Linked DNA regions of Homo sapiens: region 2 is linked to region 1. The links come from fine-mapping of genetic effects on gene expression. A gene starts in region 1. The other region holds a variant in brackets. All regions are shown on one strand. Distances are between the middles of the regions.

Evidence for each region. PIP is the estimated chance that this variant, and not a neighbour inherited with it, causes the effect.
Region 2: its variant is fine-mapped to the expression of LINC02166 in tibial nerve (GTEx, PIP 0.99).

Annotation. Positions count from the first base shown.
Region 1 is chr16:89,682,710-89,690,737 of GRCh38, forward strand. LINC02166 (long intergenic non-protein coding RNA 2166) reads right to left here and starts at 4,203. Exons shown (of 3, transcript NR_184152.1): 1 at 3,738-4,203; 2 at 2,101-2,966; 3 at 1-467. It overlaps CDK10 (cyclin dependent kinase 10), which reads left to right and starts at 3,980. Exons shown (of 13, transcript NM_052988.5): 1 at 3,980-4,088; 2 at 6,543-6,615; 3 at 7,844-7,915. The coding sequence starts at 4,002. RefSeq lists a silencer at 4,165-4,414.
Region 2 is chr16:89,709,972-89,718,360 of GRCh38, forward strand. It overlaps VPS9D1 (VPS9 domain containing 1), which reads right to left. Exons shown (of 15, transcript NM_004913.3): 3 at 6,759-6,851; 4 at 6,491-6,653; 5 at 2,634-2,745; 6 at 2,489-2,551; 7 at 2,076-2,128; 8 at 1,911-1,998; 9 at 1,356-1,441; 10 at 615-1,039. It overlaps VPS9D1-AS1 (VPS9D1 antisense RNA 1), which reads left to right and starts at 1,885. Exons shown (of 4, transcript NR_036480.1): 1 at 1,885-2,251; 2 at 2,718-2,847; 3 at 6,500-6,933; 4 at 7,373-8,194. RefSeq lists enhancers at 716-1,279, 2,777-2,876 and a silencer at 1,717-2,136. The variant G/A (reference allele first, on the strand shown) is at 4,532.

The DNA.
Region 1 (8,028 bases):
GATCCTCCCGTGTGCTGAACCGCTTCTGGGTGGGGCTGCAGGAGTAGTTGGCAGGTCCAGGTGGAGCCATCATCAGTCAGTGGGTCCTGTTGGAGCCGTAGGTATCAGACATGCAAAAAACCCTTGCGAGGTACTGCAAAAGGCCAATCTTAGGTTACAATAGCATTGTTATCTGCAGGACCTCTGGAATAATGGCTGATAATTGTTTATGTCTACATCTTAGCCAAATTCAGGCTCCTCTCCTCTCCCTAGCCTGGTGGCCCCTCATTAGTTTTACAAATACAGTTGAGTTTTGGGGAGGGGCTATTATCATGTAAACTATAAACATCTCCCAAAGCTAGCCCAAGAATAACTGAAGGCAGCTTGAAGGCTAAAGGTCAAAGGGGGTTTGGCTACATCAGATCTTCCCCAATTGGCATAATTTTCTCAATGATACAATTTTTGTGGCCGGGCTCGGTGGCTCACGCCTGTAATCCCAGCACTTTGGGAGGCCAAGGCGGGCAGATCACGAAGTCAGGAGATTGCAACCATCCTTGTCAACACAGTGAAACCCCGTCTCTACTAAAAATACACAAAAAATTAGCCGGGCGTGGTGGCGGGCGTCTGTAGTCCCAGCTACTTGGGAGGTTAAGGCAGGAGAATGGCGTGAACCTGGGAGGCGGAGCTTGCAGTGAGCCGAGGTCGCACCACTGCACTCCAGCCTGGGCGACAGAGCAAGACTCCGTCTCAAAAAAAAAAAAAAAAAAAAAAGCCTACATGGTAAATATTTATTCTTGCTACAGTTTATACAAATAACCAGGCCAAGTACAATAAGACTAAAACTTATTTTGAAAACAAATCAGTACTACCTGATTTCACTTTGGTAAAAATAGGAGACTAGAGAGAGAAAAATTATGTTTCAAAATAAACTATAGTATACCTGTTATTAGATTCTAGCCTTGCCTAAGGTTTTTCAACTTTTATTATTTTCTCTTTTTTTGTTTGTTTATTTGTTTTTTCAGACAGGGTCTCACTCTGTCACCCGGGCAGTGGTGTGGTATCAGTTCACTGCAACCTCTGCCTCCTGGGTTCAAGTGATTCTCGTGCCTCAGCCTCCCGAGTAGCTGGGATTATTGGTGTGCACCACTATGGCCAGCTCATTTTTTTGTATTTTTAGTAGAGATGCGTTTCACCATGTTGGCCAGGCTAGTCTCGAACTCCTGACCTCATGATCCACCGGCCTCGGCCTCCCAAAGTGCTGGGATTATAGGCATGAGCCACTGCGCCGGGCCAAAGCCGTGCTTTTCTTAAAGCTCTGCGAACGAAAGCTAGACAACTTAAACCTCAGAAGAGAATAATGGTACCTATTTATATACATAAACCACTTTCACGCCTGCCTGCTGTGTATGGACTTCAGAGGAACACAGCCTACGTCAGTTTTCTAGGATTGTTCTCTCCACGTGCTCTTTGTTTTCTTTCTTTCTTCTTCCCTCTATTTTCCTCCCTCCCTCCCTTCCTTCCTTCCTTTCACAAAGTCTCACTCTGTTACCCAGGCTGGAGTGCAGTGGCACGATTTTGGCTCACTGCAACCTCCGCCTTCCGGGTTCAAGCGATTCTCCTGCCTCAGCCTCCCGAGTACCTGGGACTACAGGCAACCACCACCACACCCAGCTAATTTTGTTAGTTTTAGTAGAGACGGGGTTTCACCATGTTGGCCAGGCTGGTCTCGAACTCCTGACCTCAAGTGATCTGCCTACCTCGGCCTCCCAAAGTGTTGGGATTATAGGCATGAGCCACTGTGCCTGGTCACAACACCTGCATTTTCTTTTTTTTTTGTTTTTTTTTTTGAGACAGAGTCTCACTCTGTCACCCAGGCTGGAGTGTAGTGGTGTGATCTTGGCTCACTGCAAGCTCCGCCCCGTGGGTTCACACCATTCTCCTGCCTCAGCCTCCCGAGTAGCTGCAACTACAGGCACCCGCCACCATGCCTGCCTAATTTTTTGTATTTTTTAGTGGAGATGGGGTTTCACTGTGTTAGCCAGGATGGTCTCTATCTCCTGACCTCGTGATCGACCCGCCTCAGACTCCCAAAGTGCTGGGATTACAGGCATGAGCCACCACGCCTGGCCAACACCCCCATTTTGTATACCACACTCAACTCCCCCATTTTCTACATGCTGATCAAAACCAATCTGAATGGAGTCTAGGTCTGGCTGTGGGCTGTTGGGAAGAGGCCCCCAAATCTGGCCATCAACTGGCCGCAAAACTGGCCATAAACAAAATCTCTGCTGCACTGTGACATGCTCATGATGGCCATGACTCCCACACTGGAATGAGGGCAAGGAACACCTGGCCCACCCAGGGCGGAAAACCGCTTAAAGGAGTTCCTGAACCACAAACAATAGCATGAGCGATCTGTGCCTTAAGGACGTGCTCCTGCTGCAGATAACTAGCCAGACCCATCCCTTTATTTCCCGTAAGAAGTGCTTTTAATCTATAATCTATAGAAACAATGCTTATCACTGGCTTGCTGTCAATAAATATGTGGGTAAATCTCTGTTCGAGGCTTTCAGCTTCGAAGGCTGTGAGACCCCTGATTTCCCACTCCACACCCTATATTTCTGTGTGTGTTTCTTTAATTCCTCTAGCGCCGCTGGGTTAGGGTCTCCACGACCGAGCTGGTCCCGCAGTGGGCAGTGGTTTGGGCCCGACCGAGCTGGTCCCGCAGTGGGCGGTGGTTTGGGCCCGACCGAGCTGGTCCCGCAGTGGGCGGTGGTTTGGGCCCGACCGAGCTGGTCTCGCAGTGGGCGGTGGTTTGGGCCCGACCGAGCTGGTCTCGCAGTGGTTTGGGCCCTGCTTGCTCGACTGGATTTCAACAGTGAAGCCAGATTAGAGGACATGCTGGCTGCCCCGATCCTGGACCTGGACCAATGGTGCTTCCTAAACATTCCATGTCAACTTTTCTTTTTCCACCTTCCAGGGCTGGGCTGTGAAAGAGATTGGAGAGGCAGGTGCCTGTGAGAGAAGCTTCTACCAGCCTGGGAAGTCAGGTCTTCCATGAGTGAGGGGAGGTATCTACTTTGCCAAACCTTGTTAGGGAATGCTGACATAGCTGCCTCTTCCTGCCCAGAAGCTAAGCTTGAATGCCACCCCTCACAGAGCTTCTCTCCTGTCTTTCACTCACTCCTGCTTATTTCTGTGACAGAACTTGACAGCATGGACATTGCCACTTGCTTCCTTCAGTCTCCTGGAGTCCCCATGTCCTGAACACAGAGGAGGCACCCAAATGCTTGCTGAAGCCACATCCCTGGACCAAGTGACCTGACCCTCACCTGGAGGACCTTCACCTTCACCTCTCACCTGGAGGACCCTCTCACCTGGAAGACTCTCTCACCTGGAGGACCACCCCACCTGAAGGACTCCCAACTGGAGGACCCTCTTACCTGGGGGACCCCCTCCGCTGGAGGACCCTCTCACCTGGAGGACCCTCTTACCTGGAGGGCCCTTCACCTGGGGGACTCCCCCACCTAGAGGATCCTCTTACCTGGAGGTCCCCTCACCTGGGGAACCCCCCCCCCACCTAGAGGATCCTCTTACCTGGAGGGCCCTTCACCTGGGGAACCCCCCCCCCCCACCTAGAGGATCCTCTTACCTGGAGGACCCCCCACCGAGAGGACCCTCCCCCCCCACCTGGAGGACCTCCCCACATGAAGGACTCCCACCTGGAGGACCTTCTTACCTGGGGGAACCCGTCTCACCTGGAAGACCTTCACCTGGGTAATCGCCGTGGCCTCCCACTACGGCGCAGCCGGGTCGGCTGCCCGGGCTTCACCCTAAAATAAGGCCCGAACTGCAGCAGTCGGAGCCGATCCCTGGAGCCCAGCGCCTAGGGCGGACCCGCGGGAGCGTCTCTTGGTAACCGTTGCTAAGGAGAGGAAGCCCGGGAAGGAGCTTTCGCGCCTGCGCCGCGGGGCCGTCCGCGTCTGCGCCTGCGCGCAAGAGAGGCGGGGCCAGCGCTCGGCATGGCGGAGCCAGATCTGGAGTGCGAGCAGATCCGTCTGAAGTGTATTCGTAAGGAGGGCTTCTTCACGGTGCCTCCGGAACACAGGGTGCGCGGGGTGCCACCCGGGCAGCTCTGCCCGCCTCGCTAGCGGCACTGCCCGGCTGGGTCTGGGGAGCCTCGTGTCGCGCTGCCGCGCCGAGGCTTCCGGCACGGGCGGGAACGACAGTCCCAGAGTTCCCCGCGGCGGGGGCGGAAGCCGGGGCGGGGCGGGCTCAGGACCCCCGACAGCCGGTCCCTGGAGATCTGAGGGGCCGGGGCGGGCTCAGGGATGCCTCGCGCCCGCGGAGAGACGGGCCCGGGACTTGGGAAGAGCAAGCTCCGGGATCCAGCTCGGGCGCTGCTGGGTTCAGCGCCCGAGCTGGGCTTTGCAGGCTGAGCCGCGAGCCACTTGTTTGTGGGGAGAATTTACACCCGCGACGAGTTCGAGCTTGAAGGCTCCCGCTGGGCTTGGGCTGCATGGAGCGGGGTCCAGCGCTGCCTGGCGGCTTCACGCGAACCCTGGGCGCGTCCCTTGCGGAGGTGCCGGTGCCTCCCTCTGCAGAGACCAGGAGAGAGCCTCTGGGCGTTGGGCGGTGTTGCCCAGGTGCACGGCTGGTGGGGGTGGAGAGCCCTGAACTTTGGCCGCTGGTTTGTGTTTTTAACTGCTGGCTGGTGCTCTGAGAGGCCAAGCCACGTGTTCAGTAAGAATCATTAACAGATCGTGGCTGGATGACAACAGGAGCCACACTTTACTCATCCAGACGTGCAGCAGGCGCTCACCGCGTTGAGAGCCGTGTGCTGGACTCTGGGGTGAAGTAGTGAGTTGGCCTTTTCTTTTTTGTTGTTTTTTTGAGACAGGGTCTAGCGCTCTCGCCCAGGCTGGAATGCAGTGGCGTGATCACGGCTCAGTGCATCGTCAGCCTCCTGGGCTCAAGTGATCTTCCTGCCTCGGCCTCCCAAGTGCTGGAATTACAGGCGTGAGCCACCGCCCCCAGCCTGGCCTGGCATTTCTTTGAGTTCAGGAAGTGTGACAAGGATTTGGACACCCAGAAATAAGCGTGTCGAGAAGAGCACAAGCAGAGGATGTGAGAAGGGGAATTAAGGCGGGAAAGGGAGTTTGAGACTAGGCCATCAGTGAGTGACAGGCCAGATGCTTCTGACTCGGTCCCCAGGTGTCAGGAAGGAATCAGACTGAGGACAAATGCGGCCAGTGGCTCACACCTGTAATCTCAGCAATCTGGGAGGCTGAGGTGGGAGGATTGCTTGAGCCCAGGTTTGATACTGAGGGTTAAGAGAAGGGAAGCCGGGAAATGGGGGCTGTGAGGTTTCAAACCTTGCTACGTGTGCTTTTTTTTTTTTTTTTTTTTTTGAGACGGAGTCTCATTCTGTCACCCAGGCTGGAGTGCAGTGGCGCAGTCTCGGCTCACTGCAAGCTCCACCTCCTGGGTTCACGCCATCCTCCTGCCTCAGCCTCCCAAGCAGCTGGGACTACAGGCGCCCGCCACCACGCCCAGCTAATTTTTTCATATTTTTAGTAGAGACGGAGTTTCACCGTGTTAGTCAGGGTGCTCTAGATCTCCTGACTTCGTGATCCACCCACCTCAGCCTCCTAAAGTGCTGGGATTACAGGCGTGAGCCACTGCGCCCGGCTTACATGTGCTTCTTAGATCCATGGAGAAGGATACAGACTCTACTAGTTCAGAGACCCCAAAATACAGGGCCTCAAGATGATGCCTTTTTTCACTCTCCCCTAACATTCTGGAGAGAAGCAGTTGTTTTGCACAGGTGGGTCAGGCATTCTGGTTCCATTTTTTCTTCCCGTCACTGAGGTGAGAAGAGGTGAAAGCTTCCTTTCACCTGGAAGTCACACGGTCCCTTCAGCTCACATTCCAAGGCCAGATGCCACTGGGTAGCGTTTCATAACTTCCAGGAGGTAGTGATACAGGGATGCTGGGACAGCAGCCTCTGCCACAGATGTATTTTTGTATGTGGGATTGAAAGGGAGTATCTGAGTGGCCGCCTCTGATATTTCTTTCAAAGCATTGGCCCAGTATCGTCACCACCTTTTCTCATCAGAAAAGCCCAAGAGGCCGGGTACGGTGGCTCACGCTTGTAATCCCAGCACTTTGGGAGGCCAAGGCGGGCAGATCACTTGAGGTCAGGAGCTCAAGACCAGCCTGGCCAACATGGTGAAACCCAGTCTCTACTAAAAATAGAAAATTAGGCGGTTGTGGTGGCACCTGCCTGTAATCCCAGCTACTCAGGAGGCTGAGGCCGGAGAATCACTTGAACCCAGGAGGCGGAGGTTGCAGTGAACCATGTTCTTGCCACTGCACTCCAGCCTGGGCAACAGAGCGAGACTCAGTCTCAAAAAAAGAAAAAAAAAGCCCAAACGTGTGGTTGCCTTTCTGTTTGGTGAGCAAGACGTGAGTGGGCTCCCTGGTACAAATTCCATTTGAAATTTCCTCAGTTGTTCCATCAGCTGCCAAATTTCCACACTGGCAACACCCTTCTGTTTCAGCTGGGACGATGCCGGAGTGTGAAGGAGTTTGAGAAGCTGAACCGCATTGGAGAGGGTACCTACGGCATTGTGTGTGAGTGGCCAAGGCTAGGACATGTGGCCGCAGCTCGTGGCTGTGACAGTGTGGGACGAGACTGTCGAAGCAGCAGCCGCGTTGGGGCTGGAAGGGACTCAGACCCTGTGCTCTGAAACAGGGCAGAAACCTGTTCAGGAACTTCAATTCCTGATGTAGTTATCACAAACATTGTACCATTTCTGGGTAAACGTAAGCATCCGGTTGCTAATGCCCATAATCCAAACGTGTCACTGCAGAGTACACAGAACTGTTAGAGAAATAAAATACAGAACTTTCCAGAAGCAGCAGGAGCTGGACATGGTGCTCATGTCTATCACCTCAGCAACTCTGGAGGAGTCACCTGAGCCCAGGTGTTTTTTCTTTTTGTTTGTTTTTGAGATGGGTCTTGCTCTATTGCCCAGACTGGAGTGCAGTGGCATGATCATAGCTCACTGCGGCCTCGACCTCCTAGGCTCAAGTGATCCTCCCACCTCAGCCTCCTGAGTATCTGGGACCACAAGAGTACATAAGCACACCCAGCTAATTTTTAAATTTTTGGTAGAGATGGGATCTCCCTATGTTGCCCAGGCTGGTCTTGAACTTCTGGGCTCAAATGATCCTCCTGCCTCGGCCTCCCAAAGCACTGGGATTACAGGTGTGAGCCACTGCACCCGGCCAAGCCTAGGAGTTTGAGGCTGCAGTGAGCTGTGATCACGCCACTGCACCCCAGCCTTGGCAACAGAGTGAGACCCTGTCTCAAAAAAACCAAAAACACCACACACAACTAAAGGTTATAACAGATGTGAAATTGGCGTAGGTCATTCTGGAAGCTGCACACATTAGCAGGATGTTTTGTAGAGCCATCTTCACACAAAATAAGGTTTGCTTTTTTCTGCATAGAGTACCTTATTTGCTTTTAGGACATTACAAGAGAGCACAAAGCAGTGATCTGCATGCTAAGGAGGACATGGAGAGCCTGGAGCCACAGAACTGAGTGGCTGGAGGCCAGGGTCCAGCACAGAGCAAAGTTGGGCACCCCCTGCCCAGTTCAAATGAGGAAACCCTCCGGGGGAACGCGTCTCGGGCTAGGGGCGTTGCACAGAGTGGGGACTGAGTGTCACTGGGCATGAGGTTGTCAGAGGAAAGAACGGGGACCCCTGTGGCTCAGGGAGAGCCTCCCGTTCAGCGCTAGGGAGCCCACGAGGGGCATCGAGATGATGTCATCACCAATGTGTTTCCATTCCAGATCGGGCCCGGGACACCCAGACAGATGAGATTGTCGCACTGAAGAAGGTGCGGATGGACAAGGAGAAGGATGGTGAGCAGGAAATTGGGGTGTTGGGACCTCGCACTGGGAGGAGGCAGAAGGATGTGAGTTACCTGAAGTTTCCTCAGAGCGACTGCACGGTGCTTGTAGCGGGGGCCGGCCTC
Region 2 (8,389 bases), 27 kb after region 1:
CCACGGGGCCTTTCTCCGCCCAAGAAACCTCTTTCCACCGCCTTCAAGCCTCCTGCACCCACCCCTGACCCTCCTCGGCCCAGGGCAGGGAGTCCGGGACTGGAAACGGTCACCTACAGCTGCTGCCCTGTTGGGCCAGCAGCCTGAGAAGAAACCGGAGAATGATCCTTTTCTCAAAAGGGGCTTTACCCAAAACTGCAGGAACCAGGGAAGACTTTAGATCCAACCCCCTGTGGGTGGGGACCCTGACCAAGTTCCTTAGTGTGTGGGCAGCACAGTGAGAATGACGCCTGGACTGTTGGGCCTCCCTCAGTGGTTCTTAGAAAACTCTGGGCTGGGCGCGGTGGCTCATGCTTGTAATCCCAGCACTTTGGGAGGCCGGGGTGGGCAGATCAACTGAGGTCAGGAGTTTGAGAACAGCTTGACCAACATGGTGAAACTCCGTTTCTACCACACTGTTTCCAAAATGAGAAGGGCTGAGGCGTGAGCTGGGTGGATGTAAGTCTGATCAGAGTCTCTGATCAACAGACCCTTCCCCAAACAGAAGCTTGAAACGGACCAATAAGCAGGGGTGAAGAGCTGCGGCGGCTCTCCCAGGGAGGGCCTGGCCTCACCTACGGCATTGTGGATCTCCTCCACCGCGGTCTTCAGCTGCTGCAGCTGGGGCTCCGGCTGTACCCCACGGCCCCGGCCCTGCCGCTCAGACGTCCCCAGGAACTGCTCCAGGTCCTCGAACGAGCTGTCCTTGTCTGGCAATCCAGATGCGGTGTCCCCCAGGGGTGAGGGAGACCCCACGGGGCCGGGTTGGAGTGGGGGCGTGGGGGGACTGTCCTGGGGCCGCGGGGCTGCGCTGGGCTCGGGCGGGGACAGCATGCAATGGAGGCTCTGCGAGGGCCGCAGCCGTCGGCTTCCGGGGTTGGGGGTCGGGGGGCAGCAGCCTGGGGCTGGCGCGGCTGCTCTGCTCACGGCGGGATACAGGGCGCTGTACACGGAGCACTGCAGCCGCCTCAGGAGCTGCGCGATCGGGTGGTCGGGGAGGCTGCGGGAGAAGAGGACGTGAGAACGCGGCCAGCCTCGGCCTCTCCGTGGCATCCACAGGTGCCGCGCTATGCCCGGTTTCAGAGAAGCGACTTGCATTACCTCCTGACAGTGAATGTTGGAAAGTCTGCCCCCCGCCCCCGCTGGGGAGGTTGGAGAAGCCGAGGAAACGCCCTCAGCGCAAAGGGAGCTGCAGTGTCCACGTGGCCGGGCACAGGCTCCCTGTGTCAGTCCAGCCCCTCTCCGGCACCTGGCACCAGGCAGAGGTGCCCAAGGCCGGTGCGCAGGGGCTCTGTGGGGCCTGAAGGCCCAGCTACCTGAGCAGGTGTGAGACCAGGCTGGTCACGAGTGACAGGTCCCCCGGATTCCTCTTGAGCTTGGCCTTCCAGTGCTTCGGCCAGTCCTACGGGACAGGGGGCCTTGAAGGAAAGCACGGTGGGTCCGCCACGACCGGACGCGCCTCATCTCCCACCAGTGCCGACCCCTAGAGACTGTGGGAGCCCGTCCTGGGGTGCAGGAGACCCAGCGCCAGCAGGCCCCGCGACCCGCCCCCGCCCCCACCCACACCCGAGGGAAACCTTAGGCGAACCCTGGGCCTGCACCCTCGCTGGGACCCTCCCTCCTCGCAGGGACCCTCCCTCCTCGCTGGGACCCTCCCACGCGACCCCTGACCTCGCCTCCTCGCTCTGCCCCGCCCCACGCAGCCCTGGCCCCGCCCCCTCACCGGGCCCTCCCACGGGCCTCTGGCCCCGCCCCCTCACTGCCCCCCACAGCCTCTGGCTCCGCCCCCCACGGGGGCCCACCCAGGCGGCTCTGACCCCGCCCCCCTCGCTGGGCTCCTCCTACAAAGCCTGGGCCCGTGGGGGACGCACATGGTCCTGTTCGTACTCCAGGATGGCGGCGTAAAGGGCCCGCTGCTCCCGTTCCTCCGGGGTCAGGGCGACTTGGCTGCAAAACCTCCTGGGGAGAAAGGCACGCGGTGGGTGCCGGGGCCAGGCCCTCCCCGCAGCGGCCCCAGGGGCGGGCAGGAGTCCCACCTGTTGGCGGCCTCCTGGAGCCGCAGCCGGCGCTCCTCCATCTTTCTCTGGAGCTGGGTGCAGAGTCAAGGGGCCGAGCGTGGGATCTGAGCGGGCCCTCGGTTCCCAACCCCGTCCCACACCCGGAGAGGCCGGGACGTCCCAGGGACCTCCTCTCGGTGAGGGGCTGTCCCCAGGTAAGGCTTCTGGGGCAGAAGGCAGCCTGCGCTCAAGCCAGGAGGGCCGGGCCAGAGAACATGGGGGACGGCGGCCGGGCCTTCCCCTGAGACCCTGCCTCTGCAAAGCGGGGAGCCCCTCGGCCCTGTACCCCGACCCCGGAACCTCCGCTCCCCTCGCTGCCCCCTTCTCTGCCCTTGGCTCAAGGCCACACTGAGTTTCCCCTCGGGGACCACCAGGGCGGTCAGAAAGGCTGCTGTCTCCTCCCGGGCTTTGGCAATCACTAGGTTCTCCATCATCTGCCGCTGTAGAGAGAGGGTCTGGGGGGGGAGGAGGGAGTAAGGCCGACTCCCCTCTGCCCCGCGCCCACGCACCCCCAGGCCCTCCCTAGCCCCCACTCACCAGGGATGTCTTCTGCATGGCCTGGCTGGGGTCTAGCCGCGCCATTCGGGCCTCATACGCAGCCTTCAGCTTCTGATTCTGCAGGGAGGCCTCCTCCAGTGGCGTCAGCTCTCTGGAAATGTGACAAGCTGCTGTCTAGACCCCAGGAAGCCCAGTGGTGTCTGGACACCAGAGGAGTCTCTCTCATCCTCCCGGATTGCTCTGAGGCCAGGAGGTGAGGAGAAAGAGGAGGGGAGCCATCTGGGGTGGGCTGCAACATCTGCCCCTTCTTGCCTGCCCTTCCAAAACACAGGTTTTGGCCAGGTGCAGTGGCTCCCGCCTCTAATGCCAGCACTTTAGGAGGCTAAGGCCGGGCGGATCACCTGAGGTCAGGAGTTCGAGACCAGCCTGGCCAACATGGTGAAACTCTGTCTCTACTAAAAATACAAAAATTAGCTGGGCATGGTGCACACTTGTAATCCCAGCTACTCGGGAGGCTGAGGCAGAATAGCTTGATCCCGGGAGGTGATGCAGTGAGCCGAGATCTGGCCACTGCACTCCAGCTGGGGTGATAGAGTGAGACTCTGTCTCAAAAAAACAAAACCAAAACAAAAAATAACAAAAAGAAAGAAAACACAGGTTTTGGTATTGCCAGGACTTTTGGTTTTTCTTTTTTTCTTTTTTTTTTTGAGACGGAGTCTCGCTCTGTCGCCCAGGCTGGAGCGCAGTGGCGCAATCTCGGCTCACTGCAAACTCCGCCTCCCGGGTTCATGCCATTCTCCTGCCTCAGCCTCCTGAGTAGCTGGGACTACAGGTGCCCGCCACTATGCCCGGCTAATTTTTTGTATTTTTAGTAGAGACGGGGTTTCACCGCATTAACCAGGATGGTCTTGATCTCCTGACCTCGTGATCCACCCGCCTCGGCCTCCCAAAGTACTGGGATTACAGGCGTGAGCTACCGCGCCCGGCCGGACTTTTGGTTTTTCAAGAGAAGCTGGACCACTGGACTTCTATGGAGATCCGTTATATGTGTTTGGCAACAGTATGAATCTTGTTAAAGCAAGCTTGTGCAACAATCCGAGGCTGTATGACTTCGAATGTGGCCCAACACAAATTCCTAAACTTTCTTAAAACATCACTGAGGGCTGGGCACGGTGGCTCACGCCTGTAATCCCAGCACTTTGGGAGGATGAGGCAGGCGGATAATGAGGTCAGGAGATTGAGACCATCCTGGCTAACATGGTGAAACCCCGTCTCTATTAAAAATACAAAAAATTAGCCGGGTGTGGTGGCATGTGCCTGTGCTCCAGCCTGGGTGATAGAGACTCTGTCTCAAAAAATCACTGAGGTTTTTTTGCAAAATTTTTTTTTTTGAGTCAGTCTCATTCTGTCGCCCAGGCTGGAGTGCAGTGACACAATCTCAACTCACTGCAACCTCCGCCTCCTGGGTTCAAGTGATTCTCCTGCCTCAGCCTCCCGAGTAGCTGGGATTACAGGCATGTGACACCACGCCCAGCTAATTTTTGTATTTTTTAGTAGAGATGGGGTTTCATCATGTTGGCCAGGCTGATCTCGAACTCCTGACCTCAGGTAATCTGCCCGCCTTGGCCTTCCAAAGTGCTGGGATTACAGGCGGGAGCCACTGCGCCCAGCCTTGCAATTTTTTTTTTTAAGCTCATCGGCTGTTGTTAGTGTTAGCGTATTTTATGTGTGGCCCAAGACAATTCTTCCAGTGTGGCCCAGGGAAGGCAAAAGATTGGACACCCCTGCTTTAAAGGCACTATGTGGGTCAAACAGCCAGATTAGTCTGTGACCCATGAAAGGAAGAAGTGTCCTGTCTCCTTTATACAGTTCCCAACAGCCACTCCACCTTGAAAGCTTTGTTCCCTCGTACCTTCCCACTGTCAGGGACAATGGAG[G/A]ACAAGGAGGAAAGTCAGAGCCTGACGCCTGGCCACCCTGCCCTGAAGCCACATTGCAGAAACAAGGGGACTGGGAAGCCAGGCCCCGCCAGAGCAGGGGCAGGAGGAGTGGACCCTTCTCGTCTCTCCCACTTGGGAGTCACTGGGCTTTTTGCATTTGTGTCTTTGTATCTTTCATCAGTTCTAGACAACTGTCTGCCATTCTAACTTCTAATAATGCCTCTCTCCCATTTTCTTTCTTCTTTTTTTTTGAGCCGGAGTCTCGCTCTGTTGCTAGGCTGGAGTGCAGTGGCACGATCTTGGCTCACTGCAACCTCCACCTCCTGGGTTCAAGCGATTCTCCTGCCTCAGCCTCCCAAGTAGCTGGGGTTACAGGCACGCGCCACCATGCCCAGCTAAGTTTTGTATTTTTAGTAGAGATGGGGTTTCACCATGTTAGCCAGGCTGGTCTTGAACTCCTGACCTTGTGATCTGCCTGCCTTGGCCTCCCTCCCATTTTCTTTCTGGAACTCCAACGAACACGTTAGGCTTTCCATCTCTTGTTTTCTGTCTTTATTTTTTGTTTCTGTAATTCATTCTAGCTATCTTTTGACCTTTTTTCCAATACATGAATTTGCTCTTCAGCTATATCTGCTCTGCTGTTATAAACTTGTCTGCTCAGTTTTGTATGTATGGATTTCTACATATATATAGATATATAACTCATCCTTGTTCCCAGCTAAATTTTTTTTTTTTTTTTTTTGAGATGGAGTCTTGCTCTGTCGCCCAGGCTGGAATGCAGTGGCGCAATCTCAACTCACTGCAACCTCTGCCTCCTGGGTTCAAGGGATTCTCCTGCCTCAGCCTCCTGAGTAGCTGGGACTATAGGTGCCCGCCACCACGCCCAGCTAATTTTTTGTATTTTTAGTAGAGATGGGGTTTCACCTTGTTGGCCAGGATGGTCTCGATCTCCTGACCTCATGATCCACCCACCTCGGCCTCCCAAAGTGCTGGGATTACAGGCGTGAGCCACCGCGCCCGGTCATTTTTTTTTTTTTTAGACAGAGTCTCATTTTGTTGCCCAAGCTGGAGTGCACTGGCACAATCACGGCTCACTGCACCCTCAACCTGTCAGGCTCAAGTGAGCCTCCCACCTCAGCCTCCCTAGTAGTTGGGACTACAGGGGCACACCACTATGCCTAATTTTTTTTGAGACGGAGTTTCACTCTTGTTGCCCAGGCTGGAGTGCAGTGGCACAATCTTCGCTCACTGCAACCTCCACCTTCCAGGATCAAGCGATTCTCCTGGACTCAGCCTCCTGAGTAGCTGGGATTACAGGTGCACACCACCACGGCCAGCTAATTTTTGTATTTTTAGTAAAGACGGGGTTTTACCATGTTGGCCAGGCTGGTCAGGAACTCCTGACCTCAGGTGATCTGCTCGCCTCGGCCTCCTACAGTGCTGGGATTACAGGCGTGAGCCACCAGGCCGCCTGCATTTGCTTGTGTCCGGCCAGGGGATATTCCCATTCTGGGACTCATTTTAAAAACATTCGCTGTCAGGCCAGGCGCAGTGGCTCATGCCTGTAATCCCAGCACTGTGGGGGCCGGGCGCGGTGACTCACGCTGTAATCCCAGCACTGTGGGAGGCCGAGGCAGGCGCATCACGAGGTCAGGAGATCGAAACCATCCTGGCTAACATGGCAAAACCCCGTCTCTACTAAAAATACAAAAAATTAGCTGGGTGTGGTGGTGGGCGCCTGTAGTCTCAGCTACTTGGGAGGCTGAGGCAGAAGAATGGTGTGAACCCGGGAGGTGGAGGTTGCCGTGAGCCAAGATTGAGCCGCTGCACTCCAGCCTGGGTGACAGAGTGAGACTCTGTCTCAAAAAACAAAAAAAAAATCGCTGTCATCAGCTCATCTTTCTCAGCCTCAAAAACCCAATCCCAGGCTCATCCCACCTCCCATCTTGTCCATCTTACTTCTTACAGCTTTGTGACTCTGCCCCCTGAAGCTTCTGGAAGATCTCGGGTGGCAGAAAAGGAGAGAGCTTTCCTCCTTCATCGGAGTATACACGGCGGTGTCGGCCGGCAGGCTGGGGAATGGGAGCAGCTGCAGGCATGGTTGGCTTCAGGCGTGTTTTCCCTGCAAGCCATGGGTAACCAGGGGTCAAGCGGTGGGCCACATCCCACAGAGGAGATGCGGGCTTGGGGGATGCCCCAGGAGAGCCGCCTACTGCAGGAGACCCACCAAGCTTGGCGGCCGTCGACTGGGCCCTCTCCAGACACTGCTGTGCTAGCTTCAGCATCTTGGAGGTGTCGGGGGGCACAGTTTCCCCAGCTTCTGGGGGAGGGACAAGAAGGCTGGTCACAGTCGGCTCTACCACTGTTACTTACTGCTGAGATAAAATGAGGCAACGGAAAAGGCAGGCAAGCCCACTGCCCCCCTCAGCACCCCCACTGACCCCGGGCAAGCCCACTGCCCCCCCATCCCCTCACTGACCCTGGGCAAGCCCACTGCCCCCCCATCCCCTCACCCCGGGTAAGCCCACTGCCCCTCCCGTCCCCCAACTGACTGACCCTAGGCAAGCCCACTGCCCCCCCATCCCCTCACCCCGGGTAAGCCCACTGCCCCTTCCACCCCCCACTGACCCCGGGCAAGCCGACTATTCCTCATGGACCCCAGGCAAGGCCCCTGCCCCCACCATGGACCCCAGGCAAGTCCCCCCACCCACGCATTTCTAATCATCTGCCCTGGTTTTGCCTCCTGAGTCTGCTAAGGCTGTGGGCCCCTCATCGAGGCCCGTCACAGCCTCGACCCTAAACAGGCCTTTAGTGCTCACTCAGCTTCACTTGCAACTGCAGGCCTCTGGGAAGTGGCCGTTTTACAGAGACAAGGACGTGCTGAGGGGATCGCCTCACCCATCTCCCACCGGCTGTGTCCCCAAAGTCCTGCCTTCCCGTAGCTTGGCATGGAGCACCTCTGCGCGACCATGGACCTGCTCACACAGCCCTTCTGCGCGCCGTGGGAGCTGCCTCTCTGTGACTCGCCCCTGGACCCACCGCCCCAGCGCCTGACCCACCTCCCTGCTGCCCTTCACAGAAAACTTCTCATAGACTCCCATTTTCTCATCCCGCCCCGATTTAGCCCCCGACTCCCCCCGGAAACTGCCCTTACCCGTCCCCACCTTGCCAGACACGGTGGGCCACTGGAGTTCCTCTGTCTTCTGGGACTTTGCTCTCCCCAGGGGATCCTCTGCCACTCCTCCACCCAACTCCTCAATCTTGGAGCGCCAGAGCTCAGCCGAGCTCACCGGCTCCCTAGGGAGCTGGGGCAACTGTTAGCTCCCCCTGACCTGTGTGATCCTACGTCCAGTGGCTGCCCCGACCTCTGTGATCCCACGTCCAGGGGCTCCCCCGACCTCTGTGATCCCACGTCCAGTGGCTCCCCCGACCTCTGTGCTCCCACGTCCAGTGGCTCCCCCGACCTCTGTGCTCCCACGTCCAGTGGCTCCCCCGACCTCTGTGCTCCCACGTCCAGTGGGTCCCCCTGACCTCTGTGATCCCACGTCCAGTGGCTCCCCCTGACCTCTGTGCTCTATGTCCAGTGGCTCCCCCTGACCTCTGTGATCCTTTGTGCAGCGGCTGCTGGCCTCTCAAACTTAATGTGTTCATTGCGGAACTTGCTATTCCTCTCCTTGCCAGTTTGCTCCTGCCCCATCTGCCTCCTGCAAGTCTGCTCTGTTCCACCTTCAGGACGCACCCCGAGGCCGTTTACTGCTCCCATCCTGGGTGGTCTGGCCACTGCCATCCTCAGTCCTCACCTGAGGCTCCACTCCCAGGCTGTCCTCTCCCTCAAAGCTCAAAGTCTCTTCAAGTTTC